Linked DNA regions of Homo sapiens. The protein of the gene in region 1 purifies or fractionates together with the protein of each later gene. This does not show direct contact. Each region holds a gene or a part of one and is shown in the gene's direction. Other genes may lie near its edges. The genes, in order: GART, RO60 and CARS1.

The links.
Region 2: the proteins of GART (region 1) and RO60 fractionate together in Homo sapiens (co-fractionation; one large-scale study listed by BioGRID). This does not show direct contact.
Region 3: the proteins of GART (region 1) and CARS1 fractionate together in Homo sapiens (co-fractionation; one large-scale study listed by BioGRID). This does not show direct contact.

Annotation. Positions count from the first base shown.
Region 1 is NC_000021.9:33,511,035-33,514,685, reverse strand, and holds part of GART (trifunctional purine biosynthetic protein adenosine-3), read left to right. Parts: intron 1-3,227; coding exon 3,228-3,434; intron 3,435-3,651. UniProt on the Homo sapiens protein: Trifunctional enzyme that catalyzes three distinct reactions as part of the 'de novo' inosine monophosphate biosynthetic pathway.
Region 2 is NC_000001.11:193,065,972-193,069,622, forward strand, and holds part of RO60 (RNA-binding protein RO60), read left to right. Parts: intron 1-3,062; 5' UTR 3,063-3,083; coding exon 3,084-3,651. UniProt on the Homo sapiens protein: RNA-binding protein that binds to misfolded non-coding RNAs, pre-5S rRNA, and several small cytoplasmic RNA molecules known as Y RNAs.
Region 3 is NC_000011.10:3,047,281-3,050,931, reverse strand, and holds part of CARS1 (cysteine--tRNA ligase, cytoplasmic), read left to right. Parts: intron 1-2,930; coding exon 2,931-3,179; intron 3,180-3,651. UniProt on the Homo sapiens protein: Catalyzes the ATP-dependent ligation of cysteine to tRNA(Cys).

The DNA of each region.
Region 1 (3,651 bases):
GAGCATATATAAGAACCTTAATAAGTAGTTCATTCATCATCCTTTTCAAATAGTTAAAAAACAGTGGCCTGCTGATGAATGGGGAAAGGAGGCAGGACTGATTTGTGCATTTGCCAGTTTTTGTGGTATAAATACTCCCATCATAGCTGCTTTAAAAATGGCTGTTTAACAGTCTCTACAAGCTGGCTCTAGCACACCACTAGTTAAAAACAACATAGTAGTCACCTCATTAAGAAACTGAAAGTGATATAGCCATATTCCTGAAAGCAGTTATAGTTTGAGTTACACAAATGTCTGTATTCCAATAAAAGCCATTGCACAATTCCTTGCATCAGCCTCTAAAGTTTCTTCCAGGAATCATACTTTGACAACAGATTTAAGTAAGGACTTCTGGGGGTTTTTTTGTTTGTTTTTTATTGAGACAGAGTATCACTCTGTCGCCCCAACTGGAGTTCCGTGGTGCGATCACAGCTCACTATTGCCCCAACGTCCTGGGTTCAAGTGATTCTCCGACCTCAGCCTCCTAAGTAGCTGGGACCACAGGTAACACGCCACCACACTTAGCTATTTTTTGTATTTTTAGTAGAGACGGGGTTTCACCACATTGCCCAGGCTGATCTTAAACTCCTTGGCTCAGAGCAATCTGCCCATCTCAGCCTCCCAAAGCGCTGGGATTACTGGCATGAGCTACCACACCTGGCCAGGACTTTTCAACATTAAAATTACAACTTACATTATTCATGAAGTACTTGTTCATTTATAGAAGCTAGACTCTTAGTCTGCCAGTGTTTTTTCCTATAAATATTTTGTAAAACTTCACTAAAACAAGATCATAATTTGGTAATCTGCTACTTGCCCTGCCATTAAATATGTCATCACTATCTCCTTGTCTTAGTAGCATCATTTTTGATAACAAGTATTCCATTTTACAGATGTACCACTATTTAGTTTTAAGTTGCTATTTACTTTTAACTATTGAGAGCATAGTGAACAATGTAGTTACTAAATCTGAGGTCAACTATTAAGAATGGACATTTCCCAGCTACTATAAATGGAATTGAATCTAAGAGTCATAGACATGTGATTCATTTTTATTTTTATTTATTTTTATTTTTTTAGACAGAGTCTCACCCTGTCGCCCAGGCTGGAGTACAGTAGTGCGATCTCAGCTCACTGCAACCTCCACCTCCCGGGTTCAAGTGATTCTCCTGCCTCAGCCTCCCGAGTAGCTGGGATTACAGATGTGCGTCTCCACGCCCAGCTAATTTTTGTATTTTCAGTAGAGATGGGGTTTCATCATGTTGGCCAGGCTGGTGTCGAACTCCTGACTTCGTGATCTGCGGGCCTCGGCCTCCTAAAGTGCTGAGATTACAGGCCTGAGCCACTGCACCCGCCTCATTTTTAAAATTGTATCAACTTCAGGCTGGGCATGGTGGCTCACCCCTGTAATTCCAGCACTTCGGGAGGCTGAGGTGGATGGATCCCCTGAGGTCAGGAGTTCAAGACCAGCCTGGCCAGCATGATGAAACCCTGTCTCTACTAAAAATACACACACACACACACACACACACACACACACAGAGACACACACACACACACACAAATAACCAAGTGTGGTAGCACATGCCTATAATCCCAGCTACTCGGGAGGCTGAGGCATGAGAATAGCTTGAACCCAGGAGGCGGAGGTTGCAGTGAGTCGAGATCACGCCATTGCACTCCAGCCTAAACGACAGAGAGATACTCTGTCTCAAAAAAAAAAAAATTGTATCAACTCCAAAGTATTAAAAAACTGATTATCAGCTGAGCATGATGGCTCATGCCTATAATCCCAGCGCTTTGGGAGGCTGAGGCAGAAGAAGCCCAGGAGGTCAAAACTAGACTGGGCAACATGGTAAGACCCTGTCTCTCCAAAAAAAAAATTTTTTAAATAGCCAGGCATGGTGTCGCATGCCTGTAGTCCCAGCTACTCAGGAGGATGAAGTGAGAAGATCACTTGAGCCTGGGACATCAAGGCTACAGTGAGCCGTGTTCATGCCACTGCACTCCAGCCTGGGCAACAGAGCCAGATCCTGTCTCAAAGAAAAAAAAAATTATCCAATAAATAAATCAAATAAATAGGCAGAACTGATAGTAAACCTTATTATTTAATAAAAAGCTGAGTTCACATTGGCTTCCCTTTCTTAAGAGCATCATAAATAATTTAATTCAGTATAGTTTTTTTAAAAAATCAGATCCCATAATCGTAGATTCCAAAGAACTATCCAGATTCTTTTTAAATTCAGAAATGTTGTGTGTGTGTATATAGACCTTTACCTAAAAATTTTTATTAGAGATTTTTGTTGTATTATTTGTGATAAGAGAGAATGTATTCTTTTTTTTTTTTTTTTTTTTTTCAATTTGAGTCGGAGTCTCACTCTGTCCACCAGGCTAGAGTGCAGTGGTACCATCTCGGCCCACTGCAACCTCCACCTCCCAGGTTTAAGTGATTCTCCTGCCTCAGCCTCCCGAGTAGCTGGGACTACAGGTGTGCGCCACCACGCCCAGCTAATTATTGTATTTTTAGTAGAGAATGGGTTTCACCATCTTGGCCAGGGTGGTCTCGATCTCCTGACCTCGTGATCCGCCCACCTCAGCCTCTCAAAGTGTTGGGATTACAGGCATGTAATCCAAAGTGTTGGGATTCTCACGCCCGGCCGAGAGAATGTATTCTTATAGCAGACCTAGGAAGTCTAAATTTTAAAAAGAATGAGAGGGAGAGGGTGTTGATCCGCCTTCCATTAACATAACTTTTCTTGAGGAGTGTATGCATTTTCTCTAAATATGTAGATAAGCCATCTAGTTTTGCATTGTACTTTGGGTGCATTTTGGTCATCACAAAGACTCAGCCAAACATTCACAAAAGGATGGTATACTGGCCTTTGCTGGAATTCAGCTACTAGCTCATCTGATCCATTAGGGAATGTCTAAGGGTCTAGTTAGTTAATGTAGCACAAAACCTCACTCATTTGTGAGTACTGGCCAAGTGTGTCAACAAAAAAATGTTCTTAATGTCTAAGGTACAAATGGATCCCCAAATAAAAAGTTCTCAGAGGCCAATTTATAGTTTTACCCTACATAAAATAGCAGAGCCTGATTATAATTTCCACATCTTTGAATATGTGCATACTTTTGTACTTTGTGTGAGAAGGTAGGAAAATCAAACAATTCGTGTCTATTTTTTTCAGATGCCCAGACCTGGAGGATCCCCAGGGTCTTCTCATGGTTGCAGCAGGAAGGACACCTCTCTGAGGAAGAGATGGCCAGAACATTTAACTGTGGGGTTGGCGCTGTCCTTGTGGTATCAAAGGAGCAGACAGAGCAGATTCTGAGGGATATCCAGCAGCACAAGGAAGAAGCCTGGGTGATTGGCAGTGTGGTTGCACGAGCTGAAGGTACTTGCTCCTTACTCATTTTTAGATATATAATTTTAGCTGTATAATTTTAGCTATACCTCAGCCTTGCCTCACAAGCTTTCTGCCCACCTTTTAGTGCAGCCATCGCTATGGCAACTATCTTTACACAGATGTAACATGACAGCACCCACCCCAGCGATACCACGTATCTCTTCATTTCTGCCTCAGAACTAAGCATTCATGCATGCACAGCCAC
Region 2 (3,651 bases), on another chromosome or scaffold:
TCTCTGAGACCCAGTCTTTCATTCCTCCCCTCTCTACCAAACTTCTCCACATACCATTTGGCATTCTACATCTCCTGTCAGGGGGGAATGTCTTCAGTTTCCTTATCCCTCATTCCTTCAAATCTATCTTTACCTATACTCTTTACCCTTAAAAGATAAAGGAAATATCTCTTGCTGTCAGTAGGCCAGTCTCAACCTGGATGCTCTAAGCTCATTCTCATTTCTTTAAGAAATTCCTTCAGTTATCCCCCTTCTCTACTGTATCTTCAGCTCTCCAAATTGAATCTTTCAATGTTAGCATCTTCCCATTGAAAAAGGTAAAAAGATTTTTTCTCTAAGTCCCATCCTCTTTTACTTTCCTTCATAGTTTATAAGTATGTGTCTACAAAAGAGTAGTCTAGCTGTGAAGTTTCTTCCTCACTGCATATTCTCCTGATCTCACTGTAATCAAGCTACTTCTTATACCACTCTACTGCAGTTGCTCTCACTAGTCACTCCTACTTGCTAAACCCAGTGGTCATTTTCTAGCCTTTTATTTACTTTTCCTCTGACCATTTGAAATTACCAACCATTCACTCCTTGAAGTTCTCTTCCTTGTAGTCCATGATACTATTCTCTGTCGGTTTTCTTCAACTCTGTGCACCTCCTTTTCCGTCTCTCTTTAAAAGGCCTTTCTCTCATTAGCTTTTAATGGTTAATATTCACCAAGATTCTATCCTTAGCCTTCCTTGTAATATATAAACATGTTCAAGTAAGCATGATCTTCAGAACAAAACTTCTTTTATCTTGTGTTCCTCTTTAAGTTATGACCGTATCTGTCAACATGTCTTTATGGCTCTACAGGATGCTTAGACAGTTTCTTTTCTAGAATATAAAGACAGATCGAGATTTCAGAAACCTCTTCCTGGAGCGCCTTCCCTAAACTTTATCAGTTTTTTAGTTTGCCTTCTCTGCTCAAATCCTTCTGGATTATTTAGACAGTATTATTTTATACTTCCTTGCTCACTCACTTTTCCACTACAGCACTTAATCACAATTTGCCTTCTCTGCACAAATCTTTCTGGATTATTGAGACAATATTATTTTATACTCCCTTGCTCACTCATAATACTTTTCTACTACAGCACTTAACTACAGTTTGCATTGTGATTCTATCCCCACAAATGAGTGTGATTTTCCTGTGATGAGGAGAAAAAAAAATTTTTTTTCTTTCTTTTTTTTTTTTTTTTTTTGAGACAGAGTCTCGCTCTGTCCCCCAGGCTGGAGTGCAGTGGCAGGATCTTGGCTCACTGCAAGCTCCGCCTCCCGGGTTCACGCCATTCTCCTGCCTCAGCCTCCCTCCTGAGTAGCTGGGACTACAGCGCCTGCCAACACGCCCGGCTAATTTTTTGTATTTTTAGTAGAGACGGGGTTTCACCATTTTAGTCAGAATGGTCTTGATCTGACCTCGTGATCCGCCCGTCTCGGCCTCCCAAAGTGCTGGGATTACAGGCGTGAGCCACTGTGCCCGGCCCAAATTTTTTTTTTTTAGTCTCTTTAATGGGAGAGAAATTGTCTTCATGTCTTACACATAGTATGTATTCAGTAAATGCTGGTTTAAGTTTTTGTTGGTTGTGCTGTTTTGTTAGCCATGGACAGAAGCCCAGTGCACCGAAATAACATGACAGATTGAAGGACCTCAATAAACAGTGATACTGTAGTAACAATAGTGGTGGACTGATGAAGAAGTGACAATTGTGGTTCCTCCATTAGAAGGATAAAGAGGGATGTTGTTTCCAGACAGCTAGTTCTAGGAGTTTTAGAGCTAATGGAAGGAGTAGAGTGAGGGTAGTTACAGATGACATAAAACCGTAAACCTAAAAATGGCTTAAACAATAAGGATACATTTATGACATAATAGGAAGTGTATAAGCAGGGCAGTTTCAGGTAACCCGATATCAAGGACCCAGGTTCTTTGTTTTTTCTGTTCTGCTCTCTTTATATATTGGTGTGCCATCTTAAACTGGCTTATCTCAAGGTCTGAAGATGGTTGTTACCACTCCAGGCATCACTTGCAAATGAAAATGTCAGAAGGCAGAAAAGGGAACATTTCTTTTTAAGAGCCTGAGCCCCCTTTTAAGACTGAAGAAAACCTCAAAAGTGTTCTCAGCTGACTTATCATGTCATACTGGCCAGTCATGACACATGCCCAACTCCCTATACCAGTCATGTGGCAAGGAGAGCACCATGATTATTGGGCCTGGGTCAAGCAGCAGCAGCAGCTGGGAACTTGTGATAAGTATACATGCTTAGGCCTCACTGCAGACCTACTAAATTATGAAAGAAACTCAGGGCAGTGCCTGAGAGGGCTGACCCACCAATCTATGTTTCAATTAGTAATTCAAGTAATTTTGATGTACATTGAGTTTGAGAACCACTGGCTTAGAGCAATAAAGATCCATCCCTTGGGGCTAGGGAAAGGCCTAGCCTCCTTTGAAGGATATGAGGCCAAGAAGAGGAGAAGAGAGAAGGGGGAAGAATGAATGTTAGATAGGCAACCAAACATGTTTACACAATTCTTCAGGGAGTATGATCTTTCTTACTTAGTGCCAGCTACTATTGCTGCCCTCCCTTCTTTTATTCTCTGTGTGGGCCTCAAGATGCCATACTGATCTACCTGCTTAATCTCTGAAGGAGCACACTGTATCTCAAAAATGTGACGCCTTAGTTGCTTCTGATTATCACACCACTGTGGCTATGATTTGTTTGTTTGCTGTGAAGGGCTTTTAGTTTCTTTAGATTATAAAAATAGGAATACAAAACAAAAACACTTTAAAAACTGAAGATATTACTGGTAGTCATTTCAAAGTATTCAGATATGGTTTTTTTCTTTCATTTTCTGCCTTTCCTGATTTTTCTTCAGGACATTTATATTGATTTTGTACTAAGGGAAAAACTATGGAACTTAAAAGATGTTTTTAAATTAAAAGAGTTAATAACATTTCAGTAAACCTACATTTTGTTTTCCTTTTGTAATTTTATTGTGCCCATCTAGTTGTAATAACATTTTGCCTTTTTGTTAGGTTTCCTAAAGACAAAAAAAAATGGAGGAATCTGTAAACCAAATGCAGCCACTGAATGAGAAGCAGATAGCCAATTCTCAGGATGGATATGTATGGCAAGTCACTGACATGAATCGACTACACCGGTTCTTATGTTTCGGTTCTGAAGGTGGGACTTATTATATCAAAGAACAGAAGTTGGGCCTTGAAAATGCTGAAGCTTTAATTAGATTGATTGAAGATGGCAGAGGATGTGAAGTGATACAAGAAATAAAGTCATTTAGTCAAGAAGGCAGAACCACAAAGCAAGAGCCTATGCTCTTTGCACTTGCCATTTGTTCCCAGTGCTCCGACATAAGCACAAAACAAGCAGCATTTAAAGCTGTTTCTGAAGTTTGTCGCATTCCTACCCATCTCTTTACTTTTATCCAGTTTAAGAAAGATCTGAAGGAAAGCATGAAATGTGGCATGTGGGGTCGTGCCCTCCGGAAGGCTATAGCGGACTGGTACAATGAGAAAGGTGGCATGGCCCTTGCTCTGGCAGTTACAAAATATAAACAGAGAAATGGCTGGTCTCACAAAGATCTATTAAGATTGTCACATCTTAAAC
Region 3 (3,651 bases), on another chromosome or scaffold:
AAGGTAGATGGAGCGGTGGGGCAGATGGTGAAGGAAAGAAATGCGGGCACGTGTTAGACAGGGGTGCTGCGGAGAGAAAGAGCAGCCAGGCTCAGGGTCTAGAGGCGGGCGCCATATGGACAGGGAGTCCTTGAAGACCTGGTGGGGAAGCCGGCACCTAGCAGAGCTGTGAAGGATTAAGGGGCCTGCTGGTATCTGGGGAGCATGCCCCCTAAAAAAAGAGCAGCAGGTGGAGGGGCCATGTGACTAGGGTATTGTGAGTCAGGTGGGGGCCCATGGCCAGCATGAGGACAGGCTTGTGCTGCTGGCGAGGTGGGTGTTGGGGGCAGTAATGTGAACGTGCGCTTTTCAGCAGGGCCGCTGGAGGCCTGTGGCTGTGAGGGGAGAGCCATGCTGGCTACAGGTGGCGGTGTCTGGCTTGCAGGAATCCAGGTGACAAGGGCTGGCTCTCAAGTCCAAAGCTTCTTTTGAGTTAGAGGCCCCGGATCCTCCCGTGGGTTGGCTATGGGTGCTCCTAAGGATAACTTGTAAAGGGGTGTGATTCCAGTTTTGGCTAGGGAGTGTGCCCAGAGCTTTGCTTCTGGGTGCCTGTGGCTGCTTGGAGTGGGTGGCCATCTTATTGGGGTCAGATGGGACAGTGGCTCCGTGCAGTGGGAAGGAAGCAGGGCAAGTTAGAGGGACGCTGCACTCGTCATCCCACCAGCGAGAGTCATCCCAGGAAGCCATTTTAAGCCCTGCATCCATGTTGAGACTTCAGGAAGGCTCTCCCACAGAGTGCCCACCCCTTTACTGCAGAGAAGAGGTGGCTTCAGGACATCTTCTCCGGCAGCCACGGAGGCTGGGCCTTGGGGCATCACGTGGCTCCGTAGGCTCCCTGGCGGGTGAAGAGCTCGGCCCAGTGGGGCATTCTTGCTGCTGCAGCTGTGCACTCCATTCTGACTCATCTTTGCTGACACCACAGCGTTCCGGGAAGTGCCAGTTATTGGCCTGACACGAAGGGCTTTCCCCACACTAAGCAAAGCAGAGAAAGGCATTCGTGTGCAGTTACCCCCGCAACACACTCTGCTCTCTGTTTTCAGAAGCTGTGTGGGCTTGGTTGGGGTGACTCTGGCTCTGTGCCAGGAGTAAACACGGAGATGGGGGACAAAAGGGAATGGGAGAAGGCAGAGAGGGGGACTGTGATGTGCAGGGCATCCACGCCCCATGGCTGTGATGTCGGGCAGCCTGTGCCCAGGAAGGGCAGCTGGCACAGCAAGGGGTGGCCAGACATGTGCATTCCTACCCTGAGTGAACTCTGGGGTGAGAGGGTATCTGTCTGGAAGGAGCAAGCATCGGTCCTTTTCCCACAGTCCTCTCAGCAAACACAATCACTGGTTCAAGGTTTGGATGCACCTGTGCTCATGGGCTCAGGGACCAGACTCCCTCCTCTGGCCAGAAGCCTGGCACCATCTGCCTGGTCTGCCCCCACTTTAGGGACGTGGGCTGTGGACACAGCACCTGGTCCACAACTCCCGTGTCAGAGGTAATTGCAGGGAGATATTCCTTAGAATGGTGAGACAGATTTTATTCCCTAATTCCTGACAGTAGGGGAAGGAGCTGCGTTCCCTGCCAGTTCAGCAGAGGTGACTTTTGGATTTAAAGGGAGTATGATTAGCTGGGCCTGGTGGCATGTGCCTGTAGTCCCAGCTACTCAGGAGGCTTAGGCTGGAGGGTCACTTGAGCCCAGCATTTTGAGGCTGTGATGAGCCTTGATTGCACCACTGCACTCCAGCCTGGGCAGTAGAGTCAGACGCTGTCTCTAAAAAATAAAAATAAATAAATAAATAAATAAATAAAAATAAAAAAGGGAGAATGGAGGAGGAGAAGGAGGGTGAGCAGGGGCTCAAATGAAAAAAGCCATGGAGCTGGTCAGCGTGCATGTGTCAAGGCGGCCTTGTCTACAGCTGGCAGTGGTGAAAGTTAGGGTTCTGCTCCTCCTCCCAATGGTGACATGCGGAACAGTGGCTCTTGGGTCCTTGAGTGACACACCTGAGTGGTGGAGGTGCACGCTTACTGCTTTGAAGGCTCTAAGGAGGGAGGCTGGGGCCTGGGGCCAGGGGCCAGGGGCCAGGTGAGGCTGGCTGGAGCAGCCACATTTTCCTGGCAGCCCTGTGCTTTCTTGGGCTGGTCCTTTGAGGGGGCCCAGTCCTCCTGAGGCTGTGGCCTTGACCTGCAGAAGCCATGCTAGAGTCCAGCTGTCTCTTGGTGCAGGGGTGTAAATGGCACACATTGTCAATGTGGGGTTCTCCTACCCCTCATCCCCCAGCACCCAGAGGGAGAGGGTGCCGCTGCGGCAAAGAGGCTTGAAGTTGGTTTGGTTTGGGGGATTTCTGTTGTGAGTTTTTAAAAATTGAGGTTAAATTCTCGTAACATACTTAGCTGACAGGAGGGATACCATGATCATGTAGGTAGCTTTCCCAAGGCGAGGCTTATCCGTTATACTCCAGATGTGCTGACCCCTATGATTTCCCCAAATGTCAGAAACTGAACTGTGTAATTTGTGATGGTGTGGAACTGTGTTCCTGCTTTCCCTGATAGAAAACATAAATTAAAAATGTAAAAACTAAGTAATTTATATGACATAAAGTGAAAAGTACACAATTCTGTGGTATTTGGCGCATGATGTTGTCATGCAGCCTTCATTTCTGTCTAGTTCCAAAGCATTTTCATCACCCAAGAGGGAACCCATCCATACCTGTCAGGCAGTCACTCCCTCGCCCCCAGTCGAAGCGCTGCCCCTGTGCCTTTGCCTGTTCTGGATGTTTGGCGTCCAGGGAAGGGCTTGAACACCTTTTTCCTTGGTTCTGTGCCATCCCCTAGTCCCTGTCTTTCTGGCGGCCTCTGGGCTGCCCGCCTGCCTGCCTGACACCATGTGCCCTCTGTCTTTGCAGCTCCTGACTACAGGTCCATTCTGAGCATTAGTGACGAGGCAGCCAGGGCACAAGCCCTGAACGAGCACCTCAGCACGCGTAGCTATGTCCAGGGGTACTCACTGTCCCAGGCAGACGTGGACGCGTTCAGGCAGCTCTCGGCCCCGCCCGCTGACCCCCAGCTCTTCCACGTGGCTCGGTGGTTCAGGCACATAGAAGCGCTCCTGGGTAGCCCCTGTGGCAAAGGCCAGCCCTGCAGGCTCCAAGCAAGTGAGTAACAGAGTGGGTTCCCTGGCCATTAGAACCTCTCTCCCAAGGTCAAGGGCTTTCTCCATCACCCTGGTGCTTACCTGGCGTCTGCGGATACCCCAGAGGGAGCCTCGCCCAAGTGTGTCTCGAGCAAGTGGCCTGGATGGGCAGATGCAGCGCTTGCTGGATGGAGGTTGGGATAAAATCACGCCCTATGGAGTTGGTTATTCAGGAGCAGTATGTTCACATCACTGGTGTGGCAGGATTGCCTGAGGTGGTGGGGTGCAGAGCCGCTGCGGCTCTGGGGTTCCACGTAGCATGCCCAGGCCACGGGCCCTAGCCTTGTGATTTTTAGCTAAGGCTGTGCCTGGCTCTGGTTGACTCAGTTCTTTCTCTTTATTTCTTCCATAAGATTGTAGCGTGTCTATCCTCCAGCTTTAGAATTGTTGAATCCTAAAGTATTAATTGGCATTGAACTTTTTTTTTTTTTTTT